7 linked regions of the Homo sapiens genome follow. The protein of the gene in region 1 purifies or fractionates together with the protein of each later gene. This does not show direct contact. Each region holds a gene or a part of one and is shown in the gene's direction. Other genes may lie near its edges. The genes, in order: DNAJB4, KLHL25, STIP1, SYNM, GLB1, MLF2 and INSR.

What was found.
Region 2: the proteins of DNAJB4 (region 1) and KLHL25 purify together in Homo sapiens (co-immunoprecipitation; one large-scale study listed by IntAct). This does not show direct contact.
Region 3: the proteins of DNAJB4 (region 1) and STIP1 purify together in Homo sapiens (affinity purification with mass spectrometry; 2 studies listed by BioGRID, with this or other methods). This does not show direct contact.
Region 4: the proteins of DNAJB4 (region 1) and SYNM purify together in Homo sapiens (affinity purification with mass spectrometry; 3 studies listed by BioGRID and IntAct, with this or other methods). This does not show direct contact.
Region 5: the proteins of DNAJB4 (region 1) and GLB1 purify together in Homo sapiens (affinity purification with mass spectrometry; 3 studies listed by BioGRID and IntAct, with this or other methods). This does not show direct contact.
Region 6: the proteins of DNAJB4 (region 1) and MLF2 purify together in Homo sapiens (affinity purification with mass spectrometry; 2 studies listed by BioGRID and IntAct, with this or other methods). This does not show direct contact.
Region 7: the proteins of DNAJB4 (region 1) and INSR purify together in Homo sapiens (co-immunoprecipitation; one large-scale study listed by IntAct). This does not show direct contact.

The regions. Positions count from the first base shown.
Region 1 is NC_000001.11:78,003,710-78,007,738, forward strand, and holds the start of DNAJB4 (dnaJ homolog subfamily B member 4), read left to right. Parts: upstream 1-1,229; 5' UTR 1,230-1,401; coding exon 1,402-1,612; intron 1,613-4,029. UniProt on the Homo sapiens protein: Probable chaperone. Stimulates ATP hydrolysis and the folding of unfolded proteins mediated by HSPA1A/B (in vitro).
Region 2 is NC_000015.10:85,760,944-85,764,295, reverse strand, and holds part of KLHL25 (kelch-like protein 25), read left to right. Parts: intron 1-3,284; 3' UTR 3,285-3,352. UniProt on the Homo sapiens protein: Substrate-specific adapter of a BCR (BTB-CUL3-RBX1) E3 ubiquitin ligase complex involved in various processes, such as translation homeostasis and lipid synthesis.
Region 3 is NC_000011.10:64,195,599-64,199,900, forward strand, and holds part of STIP1 (stress-induced-phosphoprotein 1), read left to right. Parts: intron 1-46; coding exon 47-215; intron 216-1,672; coding exon 1,673-1,799; intron 1,800-1,894; coding exon 1,895-1,997; intron 1,998-2,255; coding exon 2,256-2,376; intron 2,377-4,302. UniProt on the Homo sapiens protein: Acts as a co-chaperone for HSP90AA1. Mediates the association of the molecular chaperones HSPA8/HSC70 and HSP90.
Region 4 is NC_000015.10:99,107,833-99,112,134, forward strand, and holds part of SYNM (synemin), read left to right. Parts: intron 1-4,302. UniProt on the Homo sapiens protein: Type-VI intermediate filament (IF) which plays an important cytoskeletal role within the muscle cell cytoskeleton.
Region 5 is NC_000003.12:32,999,269-33,003,570, reverse strand, and holds part of GLB1 (beta-galactosidase isoform a preproprotein), read left to right. Parts: intron 1-4,302.
Region 6 is NC_000012.12:6,750,342-6,755,308, reverse strand, and holds the start of MLF2 (myeloid leukemia factor 2), read left to right. Parts: upstream 1-2,167; 5' UTR 2,168-2,370; intron 2,371-2,392; exon of another isoform or gene 2,393-2,427; intron 2,428-2,946; 5' UTR 2,947-2,974; coding exon 2,975-3,024; intron 3,025-3,254; coding exon 3,255-3,384; intron 3,385-3,632; coding exon 3,633-3,668; intron 3,669-4,542; coding exon 4,543-4,596; intron 4,597-4,967.
Region 7 is NC_000019.10:7,168,113-7,172,414, reverse strand, and holds part of INSR (insulin receptor isoform Long preproprotein), read left to right. Parts: coding exon 1-125; intron 126-1,663; coding exon 1,664-1,878; intron 1,879-4,302. UniProt on the Homo sapiens protein: Receptor tyrosine kinase which mediates the pleiotropic actions of insulin.

The DNA.
Region 1 (4,029 bases):
GATGAGTTATATACATAGAAAATGTCTCATAAATACCTGAAATATGTTATACTTTCAAAAGCAGGCATCAAAAGGGTATATAAATGCTATGATCTAACTTTGTTAACAAAAAATTATAAAACTACAGCAAATAACCATGAAGATTTATAGAAAACAGAATTAGAAGTAAATACAGTAATATTTAACAGGGATTACCTAAAATGATATTATAGGGAGATTTTTAAAAACTTTTTTCTGCGTTTTCCAAAATCTCCAACAATGAATATATATTTATAATTAGGGAAATGTGTTTTTGAAAGAAAAAATATTTCTCATATTACTGCCCCTTAAGTGGCATATCCAAATTTTACATTGATGCAGTTGCAGTTAAGTCTTGTAAGGAACATGAGTATGTACTGTCTGTAACCTGATACTTTGTTCTAGCTTTCCTGCAGCACCACAGTTCTTTAAATAGGGATCCTGTGGGGCGGCTGCAGGGGACGGGGGTTGAGGGGTGGCAGGGACCTCATTCAGTTTTAGTTTAGTTGAAGTAACTAAGTTCAGATACTAAAATTTCAAAAATAAGTATTTGTTTGCCAGAACTATGAACTCATGTATACTAGAAATAACTAGTTAGCTAAAATCATGTTTAAGTCCTTTACTTATTTTAAAATAACGCATTTGAATTTTATTATAGATACTCCCTTAACAATGTGAAACTAGTACACAAACTTTCTGGCGTTTCTGATTGATAGACCCCAGGAATTTTGAAGACGACATAAATTACTTGGAAATCCTAATTTAAACAACCTGCGTTTTGGTATTATATACTTAACAGACAAATAGCTTAAAATTAAAAAATCCCTAAAGTAGAATTGTCGTTCCTTTTATCTGTATATTAACTTTAACTTCTTTTAACATAGGGTGTTTAATGACTGTGATGATTTTCACCTAGTATGGAGTACATAAATATATAGTTGTGACATTCTGTGTTGAAATATTGGCATGTTAACCCATTTGTCCTGTTTAATTAGGAAATAAAGACGGTAGAGCTAGTCGGAAAATGAATAGTTAATCGTGGAGGAGGAGAAAACATAGCTCAGTACTTTGACTAGAGGCAGCTGGGAAAGTGACGTCCTGTAGCATTTGCTGTTCTAGAAAGTACAGAGACACGTAGTGAAAATGGGAGGATCTAGAAGGAGGCTGTCTCCTGTGTAGTGTATATTTATCTGTAAGTGAGCCGTTGGGGAAGGATTGAATACAGAGACGCTGTCTGCTTGCTGCCTTAAGACAGCTAGCTGAATTGCTGATTAACTTTTAAAATACCCAGCTTGGTTTATTTTTCTTAGAATCTGTTGCTAAGACTGGGGACGCTGTTTTCTTTTACAAAGGGAAATCTAAGTTAATTTCAAGGCATTCGAAATGGGGAAAGACTATTATTGCATTTTGGGAATTGAGAAAGGAGCTTCAGATGAAGATATTAAAAAGGCTTACCGAAAACAAGCCCTCAAATTTCATCCGGACAAGAACAAATCTCCTCAGGCAGAGGAAAAATTTAAAGAGGTCGCAGAAGCTTATGAAGTATTGAGTGATCCTAAAAAGAGAGAAATATATGATCAGTTTGGGGAGGAAGGTAAGTATTCTCTGTATATCTTTCTGTCTCTTCAGCTCTGTCTCTTTTTTTTTTTTCTCTCTCTCTGCCAGCCTTTTTCCCCTCTCTCTCAGCTTGTTAAGGTTATCCTTAAATTGGATTCTCAGTCATATCAAAAGTAGAAGGACAAATGTATAATAACAAGGTTTCATCTCTGATCATATGAATGAGTATTGCAGAGCCATGAATGAAATGTCCTTGTTTGCCTTTTTTATTTTAGCATTTTGTATTATACATATTTTATCATTAGACTTACAATGTTAACAATGTATATTTTAAAATAAACCTTGAATTCCCATACCTATTAGTAAATTGTGTCAAAAGTCTTATGAAACCTGTTTCGTTTTCTAATGAATTTTCTGCCAGAACCAATAAAGAGTCTTTAGTCATTTAAAACCTTAAGATTGGCATTTCAGATTCTGAGTAGTTTATAGCTTATTCACAAAAACAAAAAGTAGTTTTTTGCCTTTCTTATAGCAAGGCTAGTTTAGACTGAACAAGACAGAGTTGTGACTCTCAGAAGCAGAAGGCGCAGGCATTTAGCTTCTAGTTGTTTTTGGCATTCTGCCTGGAGAGGAAAGAATTTTCCTGATGTCATAAAATACCAGAACAAGTTTTTAGCTTAATTGTAAACAATAATTTTGTGCCAAGAAAATGAAATCTCAGAAATACAATTTTTGACCTAAAATGGCCACCTAGTTAGAATAATTACTGATTTACTTTTAGATAACATTATTTATTTAGAAATTTTACTATCTAGGTATAGAGAAAAACATGACAACTTCCCTTTCCTCTCCCTGCCATACTTTTGTTTTTTGCATTGTGAGATCAAAAACTAGTGAGCACAGTAAAGGAGGATAATTTCAGATTATCCTTTTCTCATTCTGCATTTTAAATCAGGTTTGTCCATCACTTCCATATAAACGGGGCTATGAAGTAAGACTATTTTAAATTGCTAATTGATAACACAAAAAACTTTAACTTGTACTGTTTTGGGGATTTTCAACTTTTAACATCAGGACTAAGTTATTTTATTATTAGTTTTTCTCCCAAAATACTGGCTTTCAAATCACTGTAGCTATGAAAACTTGTTATCCCTTTGATTCCTTTATTACATTTAACATCAAATTTTCCTAATTAGAAATATATCCTTAAAATATAGTCAAGCAGTGACTGCTTATTTTGAATGAAACAAATTAAATGTAGACAAGCAGGGTGATTGTATATAGAGGGTTTTTTCCTTTTTGTTTTGTTTAGCTTTTTTGGTCTATGAGTTGCCCAAAATTGAAGTTTATGTTGCAGGTTTTGGTGTGGTGAGGACCTACAGTGTCAGGTTCTTACAAAGTAAATATTGAAAAAGGCAAATACTGGGCAGTTCAATCTTGCATGATACCTATGGCCATATTACCCAAAATATCATGACTTGGTTTATCTCAAAAGCTAAGCAGGATTCTGAGATACTACCAATAATGTACTACTATTTCTAAAGGAGTAATTTTGTAATTTTGTAAAGAAATTCACAAACATGGAATGACACTGTGAATTCCTGTGAAAAAGCAGATATCCACTGCTTTGTATTTAAAATATTTTGCAACAATTCACTGATAGCTCAAGTTTGTGGCTAAGCCATTGGATCCAGGGTTTAGTAAGGATATTTGTCTTCAGAATTTTCAAGTCACCAAATGATACATTTTTCTTGATTTAACATTATCTCTTAATAGTGCTTTTCTAGAGTGATTTTTCTCATTTAATTTTTATTGGTCATTACACAATGAGTGAATTTTTTAAAAACTAAATCACCCTGAATCTGTATACCCTGGGTTTTTTTTTTTAACTTACATAATTGATATAAGTGATAGAAGGAAAGAGTGAGGAGAGAATGCCTTTTTTAAAACATAGAAATATATTATGCAGAAATACCATTCTCTAGTTATAGGTTACTTGAAAATACAATTGAATGGGCCAGGCGCCGTGGCTCATGCCTGTAATTCCAACACTTTGGGAGGCCGAGACAGGCGATCACCTGAGGTCAGGAGTTCGAGACCAGCCTGGCCAACATGGTGAAACCCTGTCTCTACTAAAAATACAAAAATTAGCTAGGTGTGGTGGCAGACACCTCTAATCCCAGCTACTTGGAAGGGTGAGGTAGGAGAATCACTTGAACCCAAGAGGCAGAGGTTGCAGTGAGCCGAGATCGAGCCACTGCACTTCAGCCTGGGCGACAGAGCGAGACCTCATCTCAAAAAAAGAAAAGGAAAAAAAGAAAATACAATTGAATGAAAGTTATTTGAATTATTTTTTAGAATTATTCTTCCTTCACAGGAAAGTATTATATTTGTTTGCCGTTTATTCAGAATATCTCATTTATTCTATTAAAAAATCCCATTTAGATACACTGT
Region 2 (3,352 bases), on another chromosome or scaffold:
TGGGTTGTTCCCATGCTCTGCAAAGCTCCTCCTGTCCAGCTTCTGCCTGGACAGCTCAGTGTCCGAGTTCTCTTCAAAGGCAGGGAGTGAGCTGGGCTCTCCATAGAAGGGCCTGCAGCCCAGAAGCCGCTGCCCGGGCATGCCTGGCCTTCCCTGGGTCACCAGGAAATGGAGCCACAGTGGCTGCAAGCAGAGCTCTCGCTGCTCAGGCGGCCACTGCGGAGCTGTCAGGGCTGAGCCAGAGGAGAGCCCCCAACTCAGGCAGCCGCAGACCGGGGCCAGGAAGGGTGGAAACAAAGCACTCCTGCCACCTCCCCCGCGGTGGGTGCCCCTGGTGACCATGGCACTTCCCACTGAGCTTGGCTGCCTGCAGCCCCAACCAGCGCATCGTCGTCTGCCACCTAGAATGTCGTCTGGCAGTGCCTGGGCCCGAGATGGCTTCTGTGACCACCCCGCTCCCTACGTTTCCCTCCCTGACGCTACTCTCCCAGGCAGCAGTGGGGATCAGGCCAAGGATGCTGGTGAGAAGTCCAGCTCTCGCTAGTCCCCACGAGCATGGCTGAGTCTCCTGCCTCCAGCTGGGCCCAACTGCCCCTGTCCCTGGAGGCCCCTTTCCATCCATCCTGTAAGACTCTGACGTTAGCTTCAGAAGCCACCAGGAGGTCCCCTGCACACTGTGGCCTCTGCACCCCAGATCATGGCCCCTGTTTGTCCACAAGCATTTTTTTTCCCCTGTTCTGGCCACCTGTTGGAGCTCTTCATAGGTGTGAGCGTCTGCATCGAGTTCCCTGTCATTCTCCAGAGCTGTTTGTCGTAGGTCCTGCTGTTGGAGGGCGCCCACTAGGACTCTGAGAGGTGAGACAGTTGGCATCACATGAATGGTGAGTCAGGGCTGGAGCAGGACTTGAGCCCTGAGTGTGCCGCCTGCCTGCAGGCGCCTCTGGGGAGCTGGCCACGGGCATCCTCACGTCTGCGCCCCTGGCACAGAGCACAGGCTTGGCCAGCAGCCGTCCAGAAGCGGCGGGGAATTGCTGAGCTGGAACCTGAGCGACCTCCAGGGCAGCCCCTTGCTCCAGTGTTGCGGTTGGATCCACAGCCTAGGGGATAGCAGCCAGCGGCTGCAGGAGGCCCCCGCTTACCCACTAAGGGTGATCTTGCTGTGAACATTCTCTCCTTCTCTCTCTTTCTCTCCCACTGGGCACCCCGTACTCCAGGCCCTTTAAGGCGCAGACTCCCAACCCTTCTTTCCCACCCGCCTCCAGCATGGGGGGGCTGCCGAATGCAAGGCAGGCATCCGGCTGCCGACAGCTTGTCTTCTCTTCAGGGTGTTGCTGGGGCCTAGCCACTGGGGTGCAGGGCAGGGTTCCAGTCCTGGCTCTGGGAAAGGCCGAGCTCATTAATCCACTGTGGGCTCCGTCACTGCTGCAGGAGGGACAGTACAGTACATTCTCTCCTGTCTTAAAGAAGTTGCTACAGATGGGAAATCCCAGAGCACAGGCCTGAGGATTTCTGCCAGCCTTGAGGGTTGGGCCTGGCTAAGCAAGTGCCCAGGACGGAGTCCGTCCGTCCAGGCATCAGCAGTCATTCGTTCCTGTGCCAGGCTGGGGGATAGAGCAGCATCCCACCCTTGATGGGGCAGGCTGAGCCTAGTGGGGCAGGCCCTACACCAACAACCCACAGGATGCACGTTGGCCAAGACCTGCTGCACACAGGAAGTGCAGGGCGGCCGCTGACCCTTGTCCACTCTGCAAGCTGGAGGATTAGCCCATTTCACAGTTGAGGCCAGGCCCCAGGGAGCACCTGCCAAAAATTAAAGGGACCCAGCCTGAGAGGGAACAAAGGGACCCAGCCTGAGAGGGAACACAGGAGCCTGGCCCCGAGGCTCCCCAACCCCTGTGCCTCTAGCTGTCATCTGTATTCCTTTCAGCAACTCAGGGTGCCTTGGGGGACACCCCCAGGTAGGTAGCGTGGCTGTTTAGTTCCAGGTAGCAGTGAGGCCTTGCCCTGAAGGGACCACATGTCAGCATGTGGCGTGCTGGGATGGGGCCAAGACCGGGCAGCCAGGCCCCAGAGGTTCGGGTTTGCAGTCTTAGAGCATCTCAGGATGGTTAGGGCCCCTGTGACCCCAGCTTCTCACTTGTGAGGAGCTTGAAGGGATTTGGGGGCCTTCTCAGTCGCCGAACCCAGCCTCTGTATCTGGAAACAACTTGAGCACGTGGGGAGGGCAGAATTCCTGCAAAGCAGCCTTCAGAGAACAGACGGCCCAGCACTGTGTGGGATGGAGAGGTGTACCCCACTTAAAGGGGACAGCCGTGGAGCCTCAGTGCTGGCTTCAGTGTTTAATTGAAATGTAACTAAGGTTACTTAATACACACAAGCATACAACTAGAAAGCCCCTTATGTTCTTGTTCTTACACAACTAAAACTAACACGTACAGCTTAAATACAACCAAAGCCAAAAACCGCGGACAGCGTCACCATTAATCACTGCTTTGCTGAGGCTCCTTGCCTTATGGAGTGCATGAACACTCAGGGTTGCTAGAGTGCTCCGCCTGCCTGTGCCCGCCTGTGCGAGAGGGCTCACCTTTTCCTTTCAGGGCCTCGGAGTGGTATGTGAGAGGGAACTTACTCTATTAGGGGAATTGGCTCACTTGGTGATAGAGGCTGAGAAGTCCCATGATAGGCTGCAAGCTGCAGAACCAGGAGAGCTGGGGACAGACCTCAGCCCAAGGACAAAGAGCCAAGAGCCTGGGGTGGGGGTGGGGTGGTGGGCAGCAAGTCCCAGAGGCCAGAGAACCTGGAGCTCTGATGCCCGATGGCAGGAAAAGAGCAACCTAGCTCCAGAAGAAAGAAACCTGAGTCCCCATTTCCTTAGCTTTTTATTCCACCAGGGCCCCTGCCCATCTGATGGTGCTCACCTGCAACCACGGCTCTCACGCCGGTCACCTCTGGAAGCACAGACTCACTGGGGCGGCCTGGCCATTCGAATCAAGTACCAAGCCGCCTGGGTTTCCCTTCCAGCACTGAGAATACGTAATGTGTCCCCGGGCGTCTGGGTATCCCCGAATCCAATCAAGTTGACACCTGAGTCACCTGCCACTCAGTGGGGAAAGCAGGCCTGGGGTGCCTGAATCACCAGACTGCGCTGCCGGTGAATGGTGGATCTGGCGTTCTCACGCCCGAGCCTCATGGGCAGCTGTGTCATTGTCATTTTGTTCCAGATCAGGTCAGAACAGAACAATGTGGCCACTGATTGATTTTCTCTTCCTCTCCTCCCTCCACAGACCGCGGCCTTCAGTGTCACAGCGTGGCCTTGCTTGTCTGCCACAGCGGGAGCTAAGCCGGCCCTGGG
Region 3 (4,302 bases), on another chromosome or scaffold:
GGAGGAGTAATTACAATTTTTCTTTATTTTTTTAAATCAATACTAGGAAACTACAAGATCCCCGGATCATGACCACTCTCAGCGTCCTCCTTGGGGTCGATCTGGGCAGTATGGATGAGGAGGAAGAGATTGCAACACCTCCACCACCACCCCCTCCCAAAAAGGAGACCAAGCCAGAGCCAATGGAAGAAGATCTTCCAGAGAATAAGAAGCAGGTCTTGTTTTTTTCTCTCCTCACTGTCACCTATCTATAAACAACTAGAAATCTTTATGTTGAATGGGGACATCTGTTGACCTTGATTGACCATGATTATTATGGTTTTTTTAGAGACGGAGTCTTGCTGTGTTTCCCAGGTTGGTCTTGAACTTCTGGCCTCAAGCGATGCTCCTGCTTCAGCTAGGATTACAGTCACGAGCCACTGTGCCCACCTAAAACTATTTTGAGTGCTTTAGTATGCGCTAAGCTTATGGCTATTATTCATTAGAATGGCCAGCATGTTAAAAAATCAGCTTCAGGCCAGGCACGGTGGCTCATGCCTATAATCCCAGCACTTTTGGAGGCCAAGGTGGGCAGATCACCTGAGGTCAGGAGTTCAAGACCAGTCTGGCCAACATGGTGAAACCTCATCTTCACTAAAAACACAAAAATTAGCCAGGTGTCATGGTGGGCGCCTGTAGTCCCAGCTACTCGGGAGGCTGAGGCAGAAGAATCGCTTGAACTCGGGAGGCAGAGGTTGCAATAAGCTGAGAGCTCATCACTACACTCCAGGCTGGGTGACAGAGCGAGACTCCATCTCAAAAAAAAAAAAAAAAAAAGCTTCACAAGAGCATTCCTAGGAGTAATGTGTAGCAAAGAGTGAGCTGCGGGAGTTGCCCTTCCCGTGGTCACCACAGCGGCTTCATTGCTGCCAGTGTGAATGTTGGTCCTAGCAAGACTGGAAAGTTGAGAGTAATTCACGTCCTTGTCGTGATCCGAAGAATGTTGTCCACATCAATCCCTAGGCCTTTGCTTCCTGGCTGGACATGGTGTGTGGTTGGGAGTGTCCGCTAAGCAGCACTCTTTTAGAGCAGAAGGCATGTGCCTCAACGATTTCATTTCCCTCCTTGTAAACTGGAACAGCAGATTGTTGCCAAATTTAGCACCTTGAAATGGGTAAGCGTTGGTTGTTTAGGGTGTCTCAGCTGGAAAAAGGCCCTCCAGTGTGGGCGGTAGTGAGCTTTGCTGAAGACTCGTGCCACTCAGCCGCTTCTCATCCTCTCACCACCCCCTCTGCTATGGTTCCCTGACAACTAAGACCCTGAGGCAACCACAAGACTGACACCAGATCTGCTGCAGCCTCAGAATAAAGCCTGGTCCAAAACTCTGCTGTCCTCACCGGTTGCTTCAAGTCGAAGGGATTTCCTCTCCCCTAAAGAAGCGCTCTGCTTCCTGACAAAGATCTAGGAGAGTAGGTGGAAAAGGGGGAGTTTCAGAGCAAGCAAAGATGAAGTTAGTTTTCATTCTAACGGCTGATACTTTATTGTCTATAGCTGACTGATGAAGAGGCCTTCAGGAGAACTTGATAGAATTCTATTCATGTTAGTTGCATTTCAGAACTTGTGACAGATCATAGATTCTTGCTTTGTCACCTGAGTTAGATTTGCTCAGCACTCACTTCTAAACCTCATCTAGGCACTGAAAGAAAAAGAGCTGGGGAACGATGCCTACAAGAAGAAAGACTTTGACACAGCCTTGAAGCATTACGACAAAGCCAAGGAGCTGGACCCCACTAACATGACTTACATTACCAATCAAGCAGGTGAGGCCCAGAAACAAGGGGCAAGGGAATTGTTGGGTGTCTCTGAGGGAGGAAGCAAAGACTGACTGTTCCTTCTTAACCATCCTGCCTGGCAGCGGTATACTTTGAAAAGGGCGACTACAATAAGTGCCGGGAGCTTTGTGAGAAGGCCATTGAAGTGGGGAGAGAAAACCGAGAAGACTATCGACAGATTGCCAAGTAGGCTCAACCTTCCAGAATACCTTGAGTAGCGCGGAGGGTTTGCTGTCCAAGACTTAAGTTTCTCTGCATGGGGAGGAGGGCTGCTGGCCATAGAATCTGCTGTGTTAAGAAAGGGCTGGCAAGAAGGTCACCAGAGACAAGACAAAAGGTGTTGAAGGCAGTGATGCGGGCCTTTCTAGCTGCAGGTGTGTTTTTCTGCAGGAGCTGACTTTATCTCTCTGTCCTAAGCAGTCCTTGTCCCTCTTTCTTTATCAGAGCATATGCTCGAATTGGCAACTCCTACTTCAAAGAAGAAAAGTACAAGGATGCCATCCATTTCTATAACAAGTCTCTGGCAGAGCACCGAACCCCAGATGTGCTCAAGAAATGCCAGCAGGTGCGTAGGAAAAGAATAGGGGTATTTTCTTGTTTTCCTAATAATTGAGCCATTGTTTCTTACTGTTTTATTTAATAATGAACTTGACTTTTTTTTTTTTTTGAGATAGGGTCTCACTCTTTCACCCAGGCTGAAAGACAGTGGCACAATCGTGGCTCACTGCAGCCTCAACCTCCTGGGCTTCAGTGATCTTCCCACCTCAGCCTGAGTAGCTAGGATTACAGGCACGTGCCACCACGTCCAGCTAATTTTTTTTTTGAGATGGAGTCTGTTTGTCACCCAGGCTGGAGTGCAGTGGCATGGTGTCTGCTCACTGCAACCTCCGCCTCCCAGGTTCAAGCAATTCTCCTGCCTCAGCCTCCCGAATTGCTAAGACTACAGGTGCACGCCACTATGCCCGGCTAATTTTTGTATTTTTAGTAGAGATGGGGTTTCATTATATGGACCAGGCTGGTCTCAAACTCCTGACCTCATGATCCACCCACCTCAACCTCCCAAAGTCCTGGGATTACAGGCCACTGCGCCTGGCCACGTCCAGCTAATTTTTTTATTTGTAGAGAAGGGGTCTCACTGTGTTGCCCAGGTTGGTCTTGAACTCCTGAACTCAAGTGATCCGCCCTCCTCAGCCTCCCAAAGTGCTGGAATTATAGGCGTAAGCCACTATGCCTGGCTGAACCTGATCTTTTTTTAGGTAGTGGCTTTGGTCATCTTACATGATTCTTTCTCTGTCATTTAACAGTGACAACATGTAGGAAGTGATCTGGTGTTTTTTTTTGTGGTTTTTTTTTTTTTTTTTTTGCAGTTTTTGGTATTGGCCAAGATTTCAACCCTAAATGTGTTAATATTGAGGGCCTGTGCATTGAGAATGTTAATAGTTCTTGTAACATAACATTTTGACTATTTTATAAAGACTGTAAATTTCTTTTAAAATCTTGCCAGCAATAGCCGGGTGCAGTGGCTCACGCCTGTAATCCCAGCACTTTGGGAGGCTGAGGTGGGTGGATCACAAGGTCAGGAGTTCAAGACCAGCCTGGCCAGGATGGTGAAACCCCGTCTCTACTAAAAATACGAAAAAATTAGCTGGGCGCAGTGGCAGGCGCCTGTAATCCCAATTACTCAGGAGGATGAGGCAGGAGAATCGCTTGAACTCAGTGGGGCGGAGGTTGCAGTGAGCCGAGATCATGCCACTGCACTCCAGCCTGGGTGAGAGTGAGACTCCATCTCAAAAAAAAAAATCTTGCCAGCAATAGCCAGTCGCAGTGGCTCACGCCTGCGATCCCAGCACTTTGGGAGGCCGAGGTGGGCGGATCAAGAGGTCAGGAGATCGAGACCATCCTGGCTAACACGGTGAAACTCTGTCTCTACTAAATAAATAAAAAAAATTAGCCTGGTATGGTGGTGGGCGCCTGCAGTCCCAGCTACTCGGGAGGCTGAGGCAGGAGAATGGCGTTGAACCCGGGAGGCAGAGCTTGCAGTGAGCCGAGATCGCGCCACTGCACTCCAGCCTGGGCGACAGAGCGAGACTCTATCTCAAAAAAAAAAAAGAAAAAAATCTTGCCAGCAATACTCTGAAAATTAAAATCCTAATCTGATTTTTTTTTTTTTTGAGATGGAGTCTCGCTCTGTCACCCAGGCTGGAGTGCAGTGGCGCGATCTCGGCTCACTGCAAGCTTCCGCCTCCCGGGTTCACGCCATTCTCCTGCCTCAGTCTCCCGAGTAGCTGGGACTACAGGCTCCCGCCACCACACCAGGCTAATTTTTTATATTTTTAGTAGAGACAGGGTTTCACCATGTTAGCCAGGATGGTCTCGATCTCCTGACCTCGTGATCCACCCGCCTCGGCCTCCCAAAGTGCTGGGATCACAGGCGTGAGCCACCGCGCCCGGCCCCTAATGTGATTTTTAAGCCCAATATTTAGATGATTAT
Region 4 (4,302 bases), on another chromosome or scaffold:
CTCTCCGTTTGCCATCCAGTGATACTTCTCTCTTGTTGGAATTTGCTGCTTTTTCCTAAAAGCAAAGAGCGAGGAAAATGTCAATAAGGACCTGGTTTTTTTTTTTGTTTTTTGTTTTGTTTTTTTTTTGGTTTTGGTTTTGGTTTTGGTTTTGGTTTTTTGAGACGGAGTCTTGCTCTGTCGCCCAGGCTGGAGTGCAGTGGCTGATCTCGGCACACCGCAACATCCGCTTCCTGGGCTCAAGTGATTCTCGTGCCTCAGCCTCCCGAGTAGCTGGGAGTACAGGATCCCACCACCCCGCCTGGCTAATTTTTGTATTTTTAGTAGATACAGGGTTTCACCATGTTGGCCAGCCTGGTCTCAAACTCCTGACCTCAAGTGATCCACCGGCCGTGGCCTCCCACAGTGCTGAAATTACAGGTGTGAGCCATGTGCCCGGCCATTTTTTTTTTCCAGTTCCAATTTGCAGAGGTTTTACTGCACTAAGTGTTACCAGTCACTACCTTGTCCATATACTGAATCTTCCCTCAGTTAACTTAAGTCAACTCCATTTCAAATTGCATTCCAGAAGATTCAGCACCAATCACAGAGATGCTAGGAAGTATGTGAAAGAGGGAGTATGGATGATTTAACCCCAAGCCTGTAATTTTTTTCGGGTTCTGTAGAAGCTTACTATGGGGAGAGTGAAAAAATCCTAAAAATGGGTTGAATTAGTATATGGTAATAAATATCTTATTACTAAGAGCCTTTAGCAAGTGCTTCGTGTGTGCCAGGTACCACAGATGCCCTTCACAAATATTCACTCTCAGTGCCCACACCAGTGTTACGAAGTGGGTACTAATATAAGCTCCATTTTACAGAGGAGGAAGCTGAGGCACATAAGTCACCTGATTAGTAAGTAGTTAAGCCAGGATTCAACTCAGGCTCTAGTGCCTGAGCAACTGACCGCTGGGCGTCCGTTTCTCTCTTCTGTCTGTTTGATCAGAGAGAAACCTTTAACCAGTATTCTTGCATTCATAGCATAATGATAATTGCTCTTCCTAAGGGCTAGCCCGAGGTACTCTGCTGATTTCAAGTCCTAAAATGCTTTTAGACCCCTCCAGCTGGCTGAATAGTTTTGGCATTAAAACTATTTTCTTTCATTTCTTTTTTTCTGTGTTCCATGTGCTTTAATGCCCCCCTCCCCTGGAGGCAGGAGCTGGAGGCAGCAGAGGGTGCTGCCACATTGTGCCCAGCTCTCCCTGCCTCTGGCTATAGCTTCTGTGGCTCAAGGGGGAAGATGCTTGCTAGGATTCTACTTGAGGGGAAACTGGTCCTTCCCAGATGGCCCATGCGCCTTCACTGTATGAGGCGGTAGTCATTGGCCTGCCCCAGGCCTGGCCTCAGATTTGCCCGAGAAGAGTTTGCTGAACTGACATCCAAGTTCCCAAATGTGATCTAGATCACTTGAAGCCTGAGTGACACACCCAGGCTGCAGGAGGGGGCTTCAGAAAACACTTGAAGACATTTGCGATAAAGTGGAGACCAGCTTCACCCTGCAAACACGGAGATTTTTGCTTATGAAAGTGAGCCCTTAGCTGCTGAGGCTGACTGGAAAAGGCTTCCAAGCCCCCAAAACATGATTGAATGAAAGCTTTTTGTAGATGGGAAGGTGGGGTGGGATTAGGATGGGATTAGCTAAGGGTCAGTGCTCTGCAGCTGTCCTACCTGGCCCTGAATTCTGACTCTGCCGCTCTTTGGGCAGGTTACGTTCCTTAACCTGTCTGCAATTCAGTTTCCCCATTTGTGAAACGAGGTACTGGAAGTAGCTCCCAGGGTGTGTACAACTGGTTCATTCGTTCAGCTAACAGCCGTTGAGCATTTAGTGTGCCAAGCTCAGTTCTTCATGGTTGCAGATTCAGCAGTGAAAAATGCCACGTAAAACAAAGAAAGTCCCTTGACCTGAGAGGCCTTCAGGTGGAAACAGCGTGTGGTTTTTCGGGGATGCCTCAGCCAGGCTGCCGGTGTGGCTAGGGCACAGTGAACAGGGGGTAGAGTGGCCACTGCAGGACTTGGGCATTTACTTTGAGTGCCATGGGAAGCCACTGGAGGTTCTGAGCCGAGGAGAGTTGGGGCCTGGCTGTGGCTTAGTGGAATCACTGTTGCTGCTGTTTTAAAAATAGACTGAGTGGACTCAGGGATGCCTTCAGAGATTGTTGCAGTAACCCAGGCAGGAAGTGCTCGAGGCTTGGACCAGGGGTCTCAGAGGGGCCCCTGCGTTCAAGTTGAAGCCAACGGCATTTGCTGCCAGATTGAATGTGATGGGAGAGGGAGAAATCACAGTGGACTTCAGGCGTTGTGGCCTGAGCAACTGGAAGAAGGGACTTTCCTTGTTTTACGTGGCATTTTTCACTGCTGAATCCGCAGCCATGAAGAACTGCGCTTGGCACACTAAATGCTCAACGGCTGGTAGTTGAACGAATGAACCAATTGTATACACCCTGGGAGCTACTTCCGGTACCTCTTATACGCTTTACTGCGGGGCATTGGTTAGGAGGACGGGCCTGGGTGGGAGATTCAAGTTCCATGTACGTGTGTTCAGTTTGAGATGCTTCTTACACACCCACCTGGAATTGTAAAATATAACTTGAGTTCAGGGTGCTGTCTGGGCTAAGCTATAAATACTTCGTCGGCATCCAGTTCGTGCTTATTGTTATGAATACATTTAATTTTTGTGTGTAGCTGAAGTTATCACAGTATTTAAATCCCCTGGAGCTCTACCTTTCAAGGTTGCAAATGACAGTGATATTTGTGAACTGTCCCACAGGCTTGCTCAGTGAGCGGTAGCTCAAGTTTGGCTAAGAGAAAATTAATTCTTTTGATACTGACAGCAGCATGCCTTTCCTGGTGTGGAGCAAGATTTCATCATCGGTTGTGATGCTGCCCAAAAGTTCTCTAAATAGCAAAAAGGTGACCTCTCTCCCAAGCTTTTGCAGCATTAGGTGAAACTGCCTCTGCTCGGGTGAGATGTAGCGTCCCGTGTCTGGGGCTCCAGTGCCTCTGTCCTGACCCACAGCTTGCTGACTGGCCAAGCAGAGCCCAAGTCTGAAGTTTTATTCCACAGCAGGATTTGTTGTGATTTCTGCAGAGACCACTGGGAGCCAGTTAAGTCTTATATTCCTGCTTCCAAACGTCAACTAATTTTCCTTTGACAATTTAGGAGGAGCTGACTCACATGGAAATGTGACTGAAACTGTACTTATTCCAACTTCAACACAGTTTGATTTTCCTCTTTGTATTTTGTGGGTGCAGAACTATTCTGTGTGCTCTGGGAGGAGTATCTTCCTGCACACCCCTTCCACGTGACTAGGCTTTCTTGACCTGCTCAGGAGGTTTGTGGTTGGAGAGCTTTCATCGTATTTTTTTTCTAAGCAGTTTAACAACATTTGAACTTCTTTGTAAGGAATAAATTACTATAAATTTTTAATTTGTAATAGTTATGTCAAATTTCCTGTAGTAGGAAGGACACACATACATACATACATGCATACCTACAGCCCATCTTGTATGAGAACCTTGTACCTGAATTGTATTCCCTCTAAAACAGGGGAATGTAGGATTTTGACATTGAGATTTAACTCTAGAATGTGTGAATATTGTGGCTAAATTGTGGCAGTGCTGTCACTTACATCAAGACTGGCAGTTGCTCTTTGGTGAGCTTCTCTGTTTGTAATGCCAGCTGTGGGATCTGTTATCGTTTTTCCACCCTGGGACATAAGCCAGTGATTTTTAAGTTTACTTCTTTGCTTTAAAAGCTAAGGGGTTTTAAACTACTTCAGGACCCTTTATATTCAGGGAACCTAACAGCCATCATTGGCATAGAAATAGAACTGTTATGAGAAGTGGGAATATTTATTGGCTGATCATGCATTTTAAAAAATGATAAATTCTGGCTGGGTGCAGTGGCTTGTGCCTATAATCCCAGCACTTTGCAAGGCTGAGGCGGGAGGATCACCTGAGGTCAGGAGTTCAAGACCATCCTGGCCAACGTGGTGAAACCCCGTCTCTACTAACAATACAAAAATCAGTTGGGCGTGATGGCAGGCGCCTGTATACAGTCCCAGCTACTTGGGAGGCTGAAGCTGGAGAATCACTTGAACCTGGGAGGTGGAGGCTGCAGTGAGCCGAGATTGTGCCATTGCACTCCAGCCTCGGTGACAGAGCGAGACTGTCTCCAAAAACAAACAAAACAACCAAAAAGATAAATTCCATGTGCAATCTTGTAGAGTTCATTCCTTGGTTTCACAGACATATTTATTATGG
Region 5 (4,302 bases), on another chromosome or scaffold:
ATTCACTGTTTCCAGTTGCACAAGTCCCGTGAACTTTGAAACTAGACCATCAGACTACTCTCAACAAATATTATGTTAATTTAGCAACAAAACTTGTTAGAACTTTTGTAAATGGGTAAATAGGCTAGAAGTGAAAGAAGGTCTTCTTCAATTTTTAGGTTGTGAACTTTATAACAAATATGACATGAGGCAGTAGTTTTTGCTTATCAGTTCCTAGCTTGGTTCCAGATACGTGAGGTGGTTTGACGACTGTTGTTAGGTAAGCTATTGTATTAAAAAGGTCTAGCTATGGTGGAACTGTTGGAAGTTGAGAAGGAAAAAGAATTTTTATTTGGGATTTGATGAGAAGTGATTTATCTTTTATGCTGTTATTTTATGCATTTGATGGCTTCAGTTCTATTTGGACCTGTCCCAAAATATAGAGAAACCATAAAGTTATTTAATTTTATTACTTTAAGACTGAGGAGGAAGCAAAAAAGTGTGATTTGCGTCAGCTGCAGAGCCTTTTGGGGTTCTGAAGGAAGGGGAGAATTAATCTTCTGTGTATTTCATTGAGATCTATTTAACCTCTTATTTCTAAGCAAGCCTTGTAAGAGGCTTTTACCTTTTTTTCTTTTCAATTCTCCTCTTTTTCTTCTCTTTCTCCCAGGTAAGCATCACAGTGATTCATGAGTTCGGTGTGTGAGAGCCTTTAACCTTGGGAACTGGACCTTTGTCTTTCCCATTTTAAGTCCTGCAAGTGTCTAAATGTTTTCTTTCAGAGTGTGACAAAGGCAGCATTCACCCTGAGCTTATTGTTGCTTTTAAAGGAGCTCCCAAAAAATTTTGGAAAATTTTAAACTACAACTTAAAACAGTAGTGAGACCAGGCACAGAGGCTCACACCTGTAATCCCAACATTTTGGGAGGTGAAAGCAGGAGGATCACTTGAGGCCAGGAGTTTGAGACAAGCCTAGGCAACATAGTGAGATTCTATGTCTATTTTTAAAAATAGTTTTTAAGTTAGCTGGCCATGATGGCTAACAACAACACGTGCATACCTCCCCCCGATAGTTTCACACCTATAGTCCCAGCTCCTCAAGAGGCTGACACAGGAGGATCGCTTAAGCCCAAGAATTCGAGGCTGCAATGGACTATGATAGTGCAGCTGCAGTCTAGTCTGAATGACAGCGTGAGACCCTGCCTCATAAGGAAGGAAGGAAGGATGGAAGGAAGGAAGGAAGGGAGGGAGGGAGGGAGGGAGGGAGACTTTTGTTTTAAATTCCATTTATCCAGATAGTTTAAAACAGACAGACAAACACATGTATCTGTCTGATCAACAAAAAAGTAGGTCAGGCATTTCCAGGAACCTCACATTTATGAAACTATTATTATTGCCTTAGTGATTACAGCAAAGGGTGGAGAGTCTGCCAGGGTCAAGCCGTGGTCAGAGAAAGTCACTTTGTCATGGAACTATTTTAACTGAGACTGCCTTAGGAAGCCCCAGAAACCACTGCTTGGTCCCCATGGGGCTGACTTCATTAAGAGTGTATCTACTTTTAGATCATATTCAGCAACACGTGCATACCTCCCCACCAAAAATAATTGCAAAAGCATAACTTTTTAAGAGAAATAAAAATCAATGTATATATTTTTTAAATAGAATTTTTAAAGGTAAATTATATTAAAGTGTTTTTCATTGGTTCTAATCAAGGAGGGAAGGCAAATGTTTTTCTTTTAGTGAACAATATTCTTTAAAACTCTTAAACTGGGAGCAGAGGAACGTGAAGAATTCTTTCAGAAGGGCTTCATGTCACCTCTTCAACGAATCTTTTCTTGGCAGAATTATCAACAAGTAGCAGCAGCCATGAGTGCTACTAAGTGTATATTGAATATCACTCTCCTGCGTGCGGAGAATCTCGCCTCAAACAAAATGGACAAAGACTTTCCCTTCCTAGAGCCTGTGTTATAGCTGGAAATAGCTCATAAACTAGTCATCAAACAAAAGATATGAATTTCAAATCATGATAATAACTAGAAGAAAAAGAAAAAATGAAAGGATAGTGAGTGACTTGGAATGGAAAGCCCAGCATTAAGGAGGAGGGTCGTGGCCCTGCCTGAGTGATGAGAAGGCTTCAGGCTGAGGTGAGTAGTGTTTGCACATGGGGACGAGCTGATGCCCAAGCAAAACTAACTGAAAGTAATTGGGGAGCTGTGTGTGGTGATGCACATCTGAAGATCCAGCTTCTCGGGAAGCTGAGGCAGGAGGATCGCTTGAGGGCAGGAGTTTGAGGCTGTATTGTGCCTGTGAATAGCAACTGGAGTCCAACCTTGGCAATGTAGCAAGATGTAAGAGTGAGAGAGAGAGAGAGAAGAGAGAAGACAGGAAGGAGGAGAAGAGAAGAAGGAGAAGGAGAAGAGGAGAGGAGAAGAGAAGAGAGAAAGGAAGAACAAGAAGGAGAAGAAAGAGAAGGAAAGAACAAGAAGTAGTGGAGAGTGGAGTGAGCAAGGGGGAGTGCGGCAGACACAAGGAGGAAAGGAGGAAGGTATGGGCTGTGGACCACAGGAAGGAGGTTTGAAACAGGAATGTGTGAAAAGAATCCTATTTTCACTTTGGCAGCTATGCAGAGCCTAGATTCTAGAGTTAATAAAGTCAAGAGACTGTGAGGAGGCTGCAGCAGTCTAAGACAACATTGATTTATGACTTGCTCTGGAAGTCAGGCTGTGAGGATAGAGAGAAATGGAAGACTGATGGTCTAATAATGAAGTCACTAGGATCTCACCATACCTTAGCTCTGTAGTCCAGTGCAGTAGCTTCTTGTATAATATTGTTGGGTTTTTTCTGTTTGTTTTGTTGTTGTTTTTTTTAACTGAGTCTTGCTCTATCACCCAGGCTGGAGTGCAGTGGTGCAATCTCAGCTCACTGCAACCTCCACCTTCCAGGTTCAAGCGATTCCCCTGCCTCAGCCTCCTGAGTAGCTGGGATTACAGGCACCCACCACCATGCCTGGCTAATTTTTGTATTTTTAGTAGAGACAGGGTTTCACCATATTGACCAGGCTGGTCTCGAACTCCTGACCCCAAGTGATTTGCCCGCCTTGGCTTCCCAAAGTACTGGGATTGCAGGCATGAGCCACCACACCTGGCCTTGTATAATATTCTTTACAAGAACGTTCATTTTTAACCACATATGGTTAAGTTTAAATTAATTAAATGTGAAAATTCAATTCCTCCTTCACACTTTTTTAAAAAATAGCTACTCTTTATAGTATCACTAAAGTTGGACACATGCATATCCCATGACCCAGCAATTCCATTCCTAGCATTCCCCTCCTGTAAGAAACATGTGCATGGCCAGGCGAGGTGGCTCATGCCTGTAATCCCAGCACTTTTTGGGAGGCTGATGGGGGAGGATCACTTGAGACCAGGAGTTTGAGACCAGCCTGGGCAACATGGCGAAACCTCATCTCTAAAAAAGTACAAAAATTAGCCAGGCATGGTGGGGCATGCCCGTAGTCCCAGCTATGTGGGAGGCTAAGGTGGGAGGTTGACACTACAGTGAGTCGTGATGGTGCCACTGCATTCTAGCCTGGGTGTCTGGAGTGAGATCTTGCCTCAAAAAGGAAAAAAGAAAAAGAAAAAGGCCAGGCATGGTGGCTCACGCCTGTAATCCCAACACTTTGGGAGGCCGAGGTGGGCGGATCTCTTGAGGCCAGGAGTTGGAGACCAGCCTGGGCAACATGGCAAAACCCCATCTCTACCAAAAATACAAAAATGAGCTGGGCATGGTGGTGCACGCCTGTATTCCCAGCTACTCAGAAGGCGGAGGAACAAGAAGCTCTTGAACTTGGGAGGTGGAGGCGGAGGCTGCAGCGAGCCAGGATTGCACCACTGCACGATAACCTCCCCAGAGCAATGGCTGCTGCTTCTCTCCACCCTCCCAATCTCAAGCAAGGGCCTCTTCTGACCAACGCTAACCCAGAACCATCCAGGGAAGGGGATCCAGGGAAAACAATTCCCAGCTTACCTACCAGGTGCACAGTCCACCCGGCATGTGAGGGCCCATCTCTTGGATGCTTATGAAATGGAACTTGAGGTTTGAGAAAGGACCAAACCTCCACTTTGTTCACCTGCGATTTGGTCAAGAGTTGGCTTGGCCTGTGTCCTGACCATAGCATGAAGCCTGTGTGGTGCGTGCCATTCCTTGGCTGCTGCTCGTAATGCCCTCCCACTTCTCTGTCTTCCCCCTTGACCGCAAAAGTAAAGTGCTACTGTTCTCTAATACTGCAAAAACAAGGCACCGGCAGATTTTAAGCTGATAAAA
Region 6 (4,967 bases), on another chromosome or scaffold:
TTTTGTATGTATGCTTAATACAATGTACCTAGGACAGTTCCAGGCCTCATTAAACATTTGCTTTTTATTTTTATTTTTATTTTTTTTGGAACAGAGTCTCGCTCCATCCCCCAGGCTGGAGTGCAATGGCGTGATCTCGGCTCACTGCAACCTCCACTTCCCAGGCTCAAGTGATTCTCCTGCCTCAGCCTACTTGTGGGATTACAGGTGCTTGCTACCATGCCCGGCTAATTTTCGTTTTTGTTGTAGTTGTTGTTTTGAGACGGAGTCTCACTGTCGCCCAGGCTGGAGTGCAGTGGCACAATCTTGGCTCACTGCAATCTCCATCTCCTGGGTTCAAGCGATTCTCCTGCCTCAGCTTCCTGAGTAGCTGGGATTACAGACATGTGCCACCACGCCCAGCTAATTTTTGTATTTTTAGTAGAGACTGGATTTCACTTTGTTGGTCAGGCTGGTCTCGAACTCCTGATCTTGTGATGTGCCCGCCTCAGCCTCCCAAAGTGTTGGGATTACAGGCGTGAGCCACTGCGCCAGGCCTTAAACATTTGTTGATTGGCTGGACAATAAAGAACTTGCTTTAGAAGGAGGAGAGGACAAAAGAAAAAAAATGGATAGGATCTCTTTAGTTAAGTTTCAGCCACAGAACCTTTACTGGGACAACTCTTGATCACATGTCAAACTGCTTTCATTTGGGGCAAGAGGATAAGGGGAAGTTGCATGGTGGGAAGTGCAGAGATCTGGAAGACAGAAGATTTTACTAAGTCTCTTCCCCCAGAAATAGCAATGAAAAACAAATTTACTTGTATTCTGTCTGTTTTCCTTTGACTTGCCAGTCTGTCAGCTTATATCTTAATTATCTATCTCTGCTCCCTGTCTCTATTATTGTTTTTTCCTCTTTAATAATGATCAAGTCCAAAGAAACGTGAGAAGCCCTGTTCCTAGCACCTTTTCCTGAGTCACCAGGGACCCCCTCTTTCTCCCCCAGGGAATTACTGGGAACAAGTCTTTCTCATTGGGTCAGACTCCACACAGCACTAATATGGCTAAAAGCCAGAGTAAAGAACCAGGGAAAGCTGGAGTTTGGATGAGTCTGGTTAAAGTCCATCCTAGACAGTCCAAATGCCCTGACCCCAAAGGGGAAGGCCCTTCTCTCCAGCAGAGCCAGATTTTATGCAAGACATTTAGTATGTCAAAGTATCAGTCTCTGGCCTTGGAGGCAGGTCTTCTGGGCCCCGTTTTAGCTCCTCCCCTGGGTGATCCAGGTTAACTGAGCTCTCCACTCCTTTGTTCCCCCAAACTTTAGACCTTTGACCTAAGAAAGCAACCAAGAAAGGTCAGTGCAGGACTGGGAGCTCTTGAGGACACAAGAATTAGAGTAAAAGGAAGGGGAGAGTGGCATTAAACTAATAGATTCAGAACTGTAGCCTTTCCCCAGTCCAACCCTTCACAGATGGGTAACGGGGGAGGGTCCAGGTCCCTCTCCAACGCGAGTTCTCAAGGGCCTCCGGTTCCAGCCTGGCCGAGGAGCGCCATCTGGCGGCCAACCCCCCAACCTGGATCCTCTGCCCCATCCGACTTTCTGAAGCCCGAACTAGATCTGGGCTGGAGAGTTTCACCTCCTCTGCGTCACTCCGGGGACTCCGCCCTGCCAGGAACGCTCCTCCTCAAGCGGGGACAGGCCCAAGCGCCTCCCCCGCAGGAAAACTGCCCATCCTCCCTCTAGGGTAGACTGCTTCTCCAGTAGAGTCGGCTTAAAGCTCCCCCCAGGGATCCGCCCCGCCTCGTCGCCCACAGAGCGCCCGCCTCTCCCCAAGGGGCATCTGCCCCTCGTCCTCCAGTTTCCCCTTGAGGAGGGAGAGAGAACGTGCTGCACTGCGCCCCCAGGTTCAACCTCCAACCCGGTCCCTCCCGAAGAATGGATTCCTCTTCTCCTTCTCCTCCCCTGCCTTATGGGAGCCTCTTCCAGTCCACAGAACCCAAATCGAGGTTACTAATGAGCTCCCCTTCTTCGTGCCCAGGGGACCCCTCTCGGCCTCAGGCTCTGCTCCCCTGAGCTTGGCCCATGGCCCCGGCGCCCCTGGGACTCGGCCCCAGCCATCTCACCACCCGCGCCAGGGGGCGGGGCTCCCACGGCCCGGCCCCGGGTGGGCGGGTCTATCGTGACGTCACTTCCGCCCGGGCCTGGCCGAGGTTCGGGCTCCGTTGGCCGAGGGGGCCGTACGGAGGTGGCAGCTGTGGGAGGAGGCGGCGTGGAAGGCCGAGGAGCTCAAGCCCGGACCAATCCCCACGTTCCGGGCCGCGACCCTGACCCTGCAGCGTACCGGGAAGCGAAACCGGCCGGATGGGCCGCTGAGCCCGAATCGGGCACTGGTGAGGCTCGGGCAGAGCTGGCAGCCCCGGACGGGAGCGGGCCCACGGGGCTGCAGGGTCTGGGAGCCCGGGATGCGGGGTGGGGAGAGGAGAGGCTCAGGCCTACCTCTCCTGCTCGCCTGGCGGGGAGGCGGGAGCTAGAGGAGTCGCAGACAGGCGCGGGGGGCTTAGTGAGGCCCGCCTGGGGGAGGCCTGAGTGTAAGGAGGGGGCGGGGTGACTGGGGTCATTAATGGGGCGGAGGACCTGCACTTGGCATTCTCATCTAGAACGGTGTCGTCGGCGGGAGGAGGGGAGAGTATGCTACCGGCCAGAGCTTTGGGAAGAGGATGGCTCTGAGTGGGGGAGGGAAAAACCGAGAGGGTTGGAAAAATTTTCCATGGCCCTAATTGAGAAAGAGGTTTGAAGAGCCCTTCCCTCCCTAGAGGGTTGTGTGGAACACCTGGAGTAGGGTCTCCCTGGAGTTTAGGGGGTCAGTTACAGGATTTGGAAAGGACAGTGCTCTGAGAGTCCCCACACTGAGTGGGTGTGCAAAACCCTGGCCACCTCCAAGTATCTGAGCTTCCATATCTTTCCAGTGTGGAGCCCCCTGGAGCTGAGATCAGGATGTTCCGCTTCATGAGGGACGTGGAGCCTGAGGATCCCATGTTCCTGATGTGAGTATTCCCTCCCCCTCAAGCTCTCCCACTCCAGGTCTCTGAGCAGTTCAGGCAGACATCGGGGTTCCCATTGCTAGGAATGGTTGGAACTGGCTGGATACCTAGCTCCTACCTAGCAGGAAGTAGGCATCGGTGCCACTGTTGCTCTGTGCGTATTTTTTTGCAGGGTGGTGGAGGGATTGACAGTTTGGCGCTTCTGCCATCCATACTATGTGCTCACTCCACAGGGATCCCTTTGCTATTCACCGTCAGCATATGAGCCGTATGTTGTCAGGTGGCTTTGGATATAGCCCCTTCCTCAGCATCACAGATGGCAACATGCCAGGGACCAGGCCTGCCAGCCGCCGGATGCAGCAGGTAATGATGCTGAGACACACCTGAGACCCAAAGAAAGGTTGGAGGTTAGTTAGGAAAGCACTTAATTTTCTTGCACTACAGCCAACTGAGCAAGTGAAATGCTCTAGGAGTTGGGGAAAGGGTCAGGAAAAAGGGCTTTGTGACTCCCTTTTGAGAGGATGGAAAAAAATTGAGGCCATGGGCCTGGTTTGGGATTGTAAAGAGATAGGATGTGGTCTCTAATTTCTGTTCCTCATGTGTTCCTGTAGGCTGGAGCTGTCTCCCCCTTTGGGATGCTGGGAATGGTGAGTCTTTATCTCCCTGTGTCCTTCCATCTCAGACACACTCTCTACCCTTAGATATTATTCCCAAATGTGCCTCTTAGGAATAGTTTCATGAGTAACCCCAGAATCTTCTCTTTTTATGGCATTCACAAAGCTCTGAGCCTGTTGGGTACTAGGAGCCCTGTGGGTTAAAGGTGTTAAACTCTTGTTGGGAGGCCGAGATGGGTGATCACTTGCAGTCAGAAGTTCGAGACCAGACTGGCCAACATGGTGAAACCCCGTCTCTACTAAAAATACCAAAAAAGCCAGGCATGGTGGCACACACCTGTAGTCCCAGCTACTCTTGAATCCGGGAGGTGGAGATTGCAGTGAGCCGAGACTGCGCCACTGCCCTCCAGCCTGGGCAACAGAGCCAGACTCCATCTCAAAAAAAAAAAAAAGAAAAGATGTTATTAACTGTTGTACTCCTAGAAGTTCATACGCATTAGGAAGATGTAATTGTCTAGCAAAATTTGTTCTTTTGAGGAGGGAAGTGCAGTTAAAGGGCCAACTAGAGATGATTTTTTGGTAGGTTTTAACAATTTCATGCCTTACCTCTTTAGAGTTTAGAATCCATTACTTTGGCTTGCTTCCTAAAGATGGGGGGAATATAGCAAGCAGGAGAAGGAAAATTGGATCACAGCAGTCACAGAGACTGAGGAAGGGGTCAGCAGTTCACAGGAGGAGAAATATGAGTATTCTGGTTATTTTAACAGAATGAGAAAGAGAACTTGCTAGATGTGAAGGAAGAAGAGAAAGGAAATGTGCAGCCATGTGGGTTGTGGGTTCCTAAACAGGATCAACTCTGAACACTGACTTTGCTTTCCTGACTCTGTTTTCCATCTCTTTCCTCCAGTCGGGTGGTTTCATGGACATGTTTGGGATGATGAATGACATGATTGGAAACATGGTGAGACTTGCCCCATACCCTTCCCCGGCCTTGCTCTCAGTGATGGCTGACAACACCTTGCATCCTCTAAGGCAAGAGGGAAACAGTATGCTAGTGAAGGGTAAAGTACTGGATAAAGTAATTGAACCAGAGAGCCTTGGGACCCTGTACCTGCTGTCATGCCTGCCTGAAGCAGCCGGCAGCAGCTCTCTTACGTAGCATACAATTAAGGCCCTGTCTCTTCAGGTCCTTCTTGCTCGTGGTTGGACTCAGAGGAATTTGGGAGGGTAATGATGAGGCCTGATGTTTTTTCAGTTCTTGCATTTTGTGAGAAAGATACAGGCTAGAACAGGCAGCTGAAGGGTGAAATCCCTTCACCAGGGGTGATGCCT
Region 7 (4,302 bases), on another chromosome or scaffold:
GAAGCCAACCTCGGCCTCATTGAAGAAATTTCAGGGTATCTAAAAATCCGCCGATCCTACGCTCTGGTGTCACTTTCCTTCTTCCGGAAGTTACGTCTGATTCGAGGAGAGACCTTGGAAATTGGGTACGTGGGCCTGATTGTGTGTATGGCCTGAGTGCTAACTAGGAAGTTCGTGTATTAGAACAACTTAAGGATTTTTTTGGCCAGGTGTGGTGGCTGATGCCTGTAATCCCAGCATTTTAGGAGGCCAACGTGGGTGAATCACTTGAGGCGGGGAGTTCAAGACCAGCCTGGCCAACATGGTGAAACCCTGTCTCTACTAAAAGTACAAAAATTAGCCAAGTGTGATAGTGCATGCCTGTAATCCCAGCTACTTGGGAGGCTGAGGCAGGAGAATAGCTTGAACCTGGGAGGCAGAGGTTGCAGTGAGCCAAGATCACACTACTGCACTCCAGCCTGGGTGACAGAGTGAGACTCTGTCCAAAAAAAAAAAAAGAAAAGAAAAGGAAAAACTTAAGGATTTTTTAAAAATCAAATAAAAACAAATAAAAAACAAATAAAAGTATATCTGGCAAAACCTCGGGAAAAAAGAACTTGGAATGTGCCTAAAGGTCCATCCAGCCAAAAATTGTAAAAGCTTTTTTATAGTCATTCTTGAGAAACAAAAGTGGGAGCAGCCCAACCTTGGTGCCCATCCTCCAAGGGTACAGGCTGGAATTTTTGCTAAATTTGCTGTTTGGGCTGCATTGTGAGTAGAGTTTGGCATGCATAAAATGAACATTCCCTCTTAGTCCCGGTTGTCCATCCTAATTTCTGGGATGGACTCCATCTCAGTATATTCCAGTATATTCCAACCTTCTCCTTGAGGTCCTAGAAACTCTATTAGCAAAACAGCAGAAACTCAAACTAGCTAGATCAAGATTGACTCATAGGCAGGAGGTCTGTGGAAGACCCAGATTCTTTCCATCTTTGTGCTCCTCATGGTCACAAGATGGCTGCCTCAGCCCCAGCCTCACATCTGTAGAACAGACAGCAAATGGGGAAAGGGACAAAAGGACATGTTAATCAACATGAGCTGGTAAGTGACTTGAGAAGGTGGTCTAAACAATATAGTTTAGACTATATTATCTGTACTCCAGCCTAGGCACCAGAGTGAGAATCCATCTCAATAAAACAAACAAACAAACAAACAAAAACCTTCAATGGCTCCTTTCTCCTTATTAAGGATGGCCACATGTTCTTGGTCTTGGTCTGGCATGCAATATACTAGAGGGTCTGGTCCATTGCAACTACAGCTATTTCCTGTCACCTATTGGCCAAAACAGGCTACTTTGCTCTTCCCTGAACTCAGCTTAGGTGCCTCTGTGTTATCAGTATTTCCCCTATTTGCAGAAATTGGTTTCTGCAAAACCTATTCCTCAGTCCATCACAGACTCACCACCCCTCTTCAAGACTGAGCTGAGCCTCCTTCCTGGCCATGAAAACTTCCTCAACTTCCTCTGTTATCCACATTCAACAAATATGTGTTGAGTATGTGCCAAGCAAGTGGAGAGGATTAGGCACGTAGCACTGAACAAGATCAACTCCGAGCATGGCCACACCATCTTGGAGTTGTAGAAGACCAGCCGTTGAATGACTAGATGTGTGTGTTTTTTCCATAGGAACTACTCCTTCTATGCCTTGGACAACCAGAACCTAAGGCAGCTCTGGGACTGGAGCAAACACAACCTCACCATCACTCAGGGGAAACTCTTCTTCCACTATAACCCCAAACTCTGCTTGTCAGAAATCCACAAGATGGAAGAAGTTTCAGGAACCAAGGGGCGCCAGGAGAGAAACGACATTGCCCTGAAGACCAATGGGGACCAGGCATCCTGTAAGTCACTGGTCCCCAACCTTTTTGGCATGAGGGACCGGTGTAGTGGAAGATGGTTTTTCCATGGACTGGTGGTGGGTGGGGATGGTTTCAGCATGATTCAAGTGCATTACATTTACTATGCACTTTATTCCTATTATGATTACATTGTAATATATAATGAAAGAATTGTACAACTCACCATCATGTAGAATCAATGGGAACCCTGAGCTTGTGTTCCTGCAACTAGATGGTCCCAGCTGGGGGTGATGGGAGACAGTGACAGATCATCAGGCATTAGATTTTCATAAGGAGTGTGCAGTCTAGGTACCTCATGTACACAGTTCACAATAGGGTTCACACCCCTGTGAGAATCTAATGCCGCCGCTAATCTGACAGGAGGCAGAACTCAGGTGGTCATGCAAGCGATGGGGAGTGACTGTAAATACAGATGAAGCTTCACTTGCTCACCTATCACTCACCTCCTGCTGTACAGCCCTGTTCGTAACAGGCCATGGATAAGTACTGGTCTGTGGCCCAGGGGCTGGGGACCCCTGCTGTAAGTGGTCCACAAACCAGATAATGTGGCTGTCCTCTCTCATCCATCACAGTCACCCCCAGGGGGTATTACTTCCCTCTAACAACTCACTGTGTGATAGGCTTTCTTACTGAGGGCAGATTCTGCACATTTATTAATATTATCACTATGCTTACTGTGCCATATAGTACCGGATACGGGATGAAGTCATACAAGCACTGAATGAATGGATGAATGAATGATGGATGAATGGATGACACCTTCTTATATGTGTATCAGGCTGATGCTGAAGACTTCAAAGTTGAGTAAAATACCTATGTCAGTCTGCATCTCCTGGGAAGTGACTGCCAAGTTGAAGTTAGGAGTGCAGAAAATGTATTGAGGGTAATATTCATAAAATATGAAACAGAGGAAGAGCTTCTTTTTTTTTTTTTTTTTTTTTTGGGACAGAGTCTTGCTCTGTCACCCAGGGCTGGAGTGCAGTGGCGTGATCTTGCCTCACTGCAACCTCCTTCCCCTGGGTTCAGGTAATTATCTCGCCTCAGCCTCCAGAATAGCTGGGATTACAGGCACATGCCACCAAGCCCGGCTAATTTTTTTTTTTGTATTTTTAGTAGAGACAGGGTTTTGCCATGTTGGCCAGGGTGGTCTTGAACTCCTGACCTCAGGTGATCCTCCCGCCTCGGCCTCCCAAAGTGCTGAGATTACAGGTGTGAGTCACCACGCTCAGCCATGAAGAGCCTTTTGACAATAGCGTGTGTCTGACCTCTGTGAACAGAGAGCGGGAAGGAGGGAGGATAGGGCTGGGAGAGTCTCAGATGGTGATGCATCCCTGAGTCTTGGCCAAACCCAGAAAGAGATCAAGGCCACGGTTGTCTGCAGGGAAGTTCTGCATTGCAAAGGGACGGCCAGGCATCTACCAAGCTCAGTCATAGGTGGGGGCTGTCCAGGGAGAGTCAGGTTTTGGCTGGAATGCTACAGCAGGTCCTGCAGTTTCTGCAGCTGCAGGCTGCCTGCTGACTGCACTTCCCTGACAGATTCTAAACAGTGAGCTGCCAAGGGCTTCTGGGATACCTTCATGGGGAGTTAGTTACTTATGTCAAAATGTAGTGCAAGGGCTGGGCATGGTGGCTCACGCCTGGAATCCCAGCACTCTGGGAGGCCGAGGCAGGCAGATCACTTGAGGTCAGGAGTTCGAGACCAGCCTGGCCAATGTGGTGAAACTCCATCTCTACTAAAAAAAAAAAATACAAAAACTAGCTGGACGTGGTGGTGGGTGCCTGTAATCCCAGCTACTTGAGAGGCTGAGGCATGAGAATTGCTTAAACCCGGTAGGTGGACTGCACTCCAGCCTTGGTGACAGAGCAAGACTGTCTCAAAAAAAATGTAGTGCAAGGAGAGAGAGCGAGGTTGGGGTGAGGTTTAGGAGAGGGTTTGTCTTCTAGGCAGAGAGAATTACTTAGATGCGTCTCTCCGATGTCTAATGATCTGCAGGGTCTCTAAACTCACTTGGCATAGGTTTATTTGCACTGGAGTTGCACCTCCTTCCAGGTCAGTCTTACAAGTCCATATGCGAGACAACGTTGTGTCAGGACAAACATCACCCTTGGAAATCCCTTCCTCCAATAACTATTGGCCGGTTGTCCTTCTTGCGCGGGTACAGACTGCGCTTATTCAGTTGACTGTCTGGCTGAGTCAAGTCATTGGCTTACGTGAGTGTGAGTGGCCAAGTTGCAAAACTGGCTCTTACCTTTGAATCTTCCCCCATTCATACTCAGCCAGGCACATGGGGAGGAGACCCTTAAGGGAATAGCAGCGTCACCTCTGCCTTCTCACGGTCCCTCCAGGAAGTGTGGGGGTCCCAGGCTTTGGTCTGAAACTACACTGAAATAGCTCATTTTTGCCTT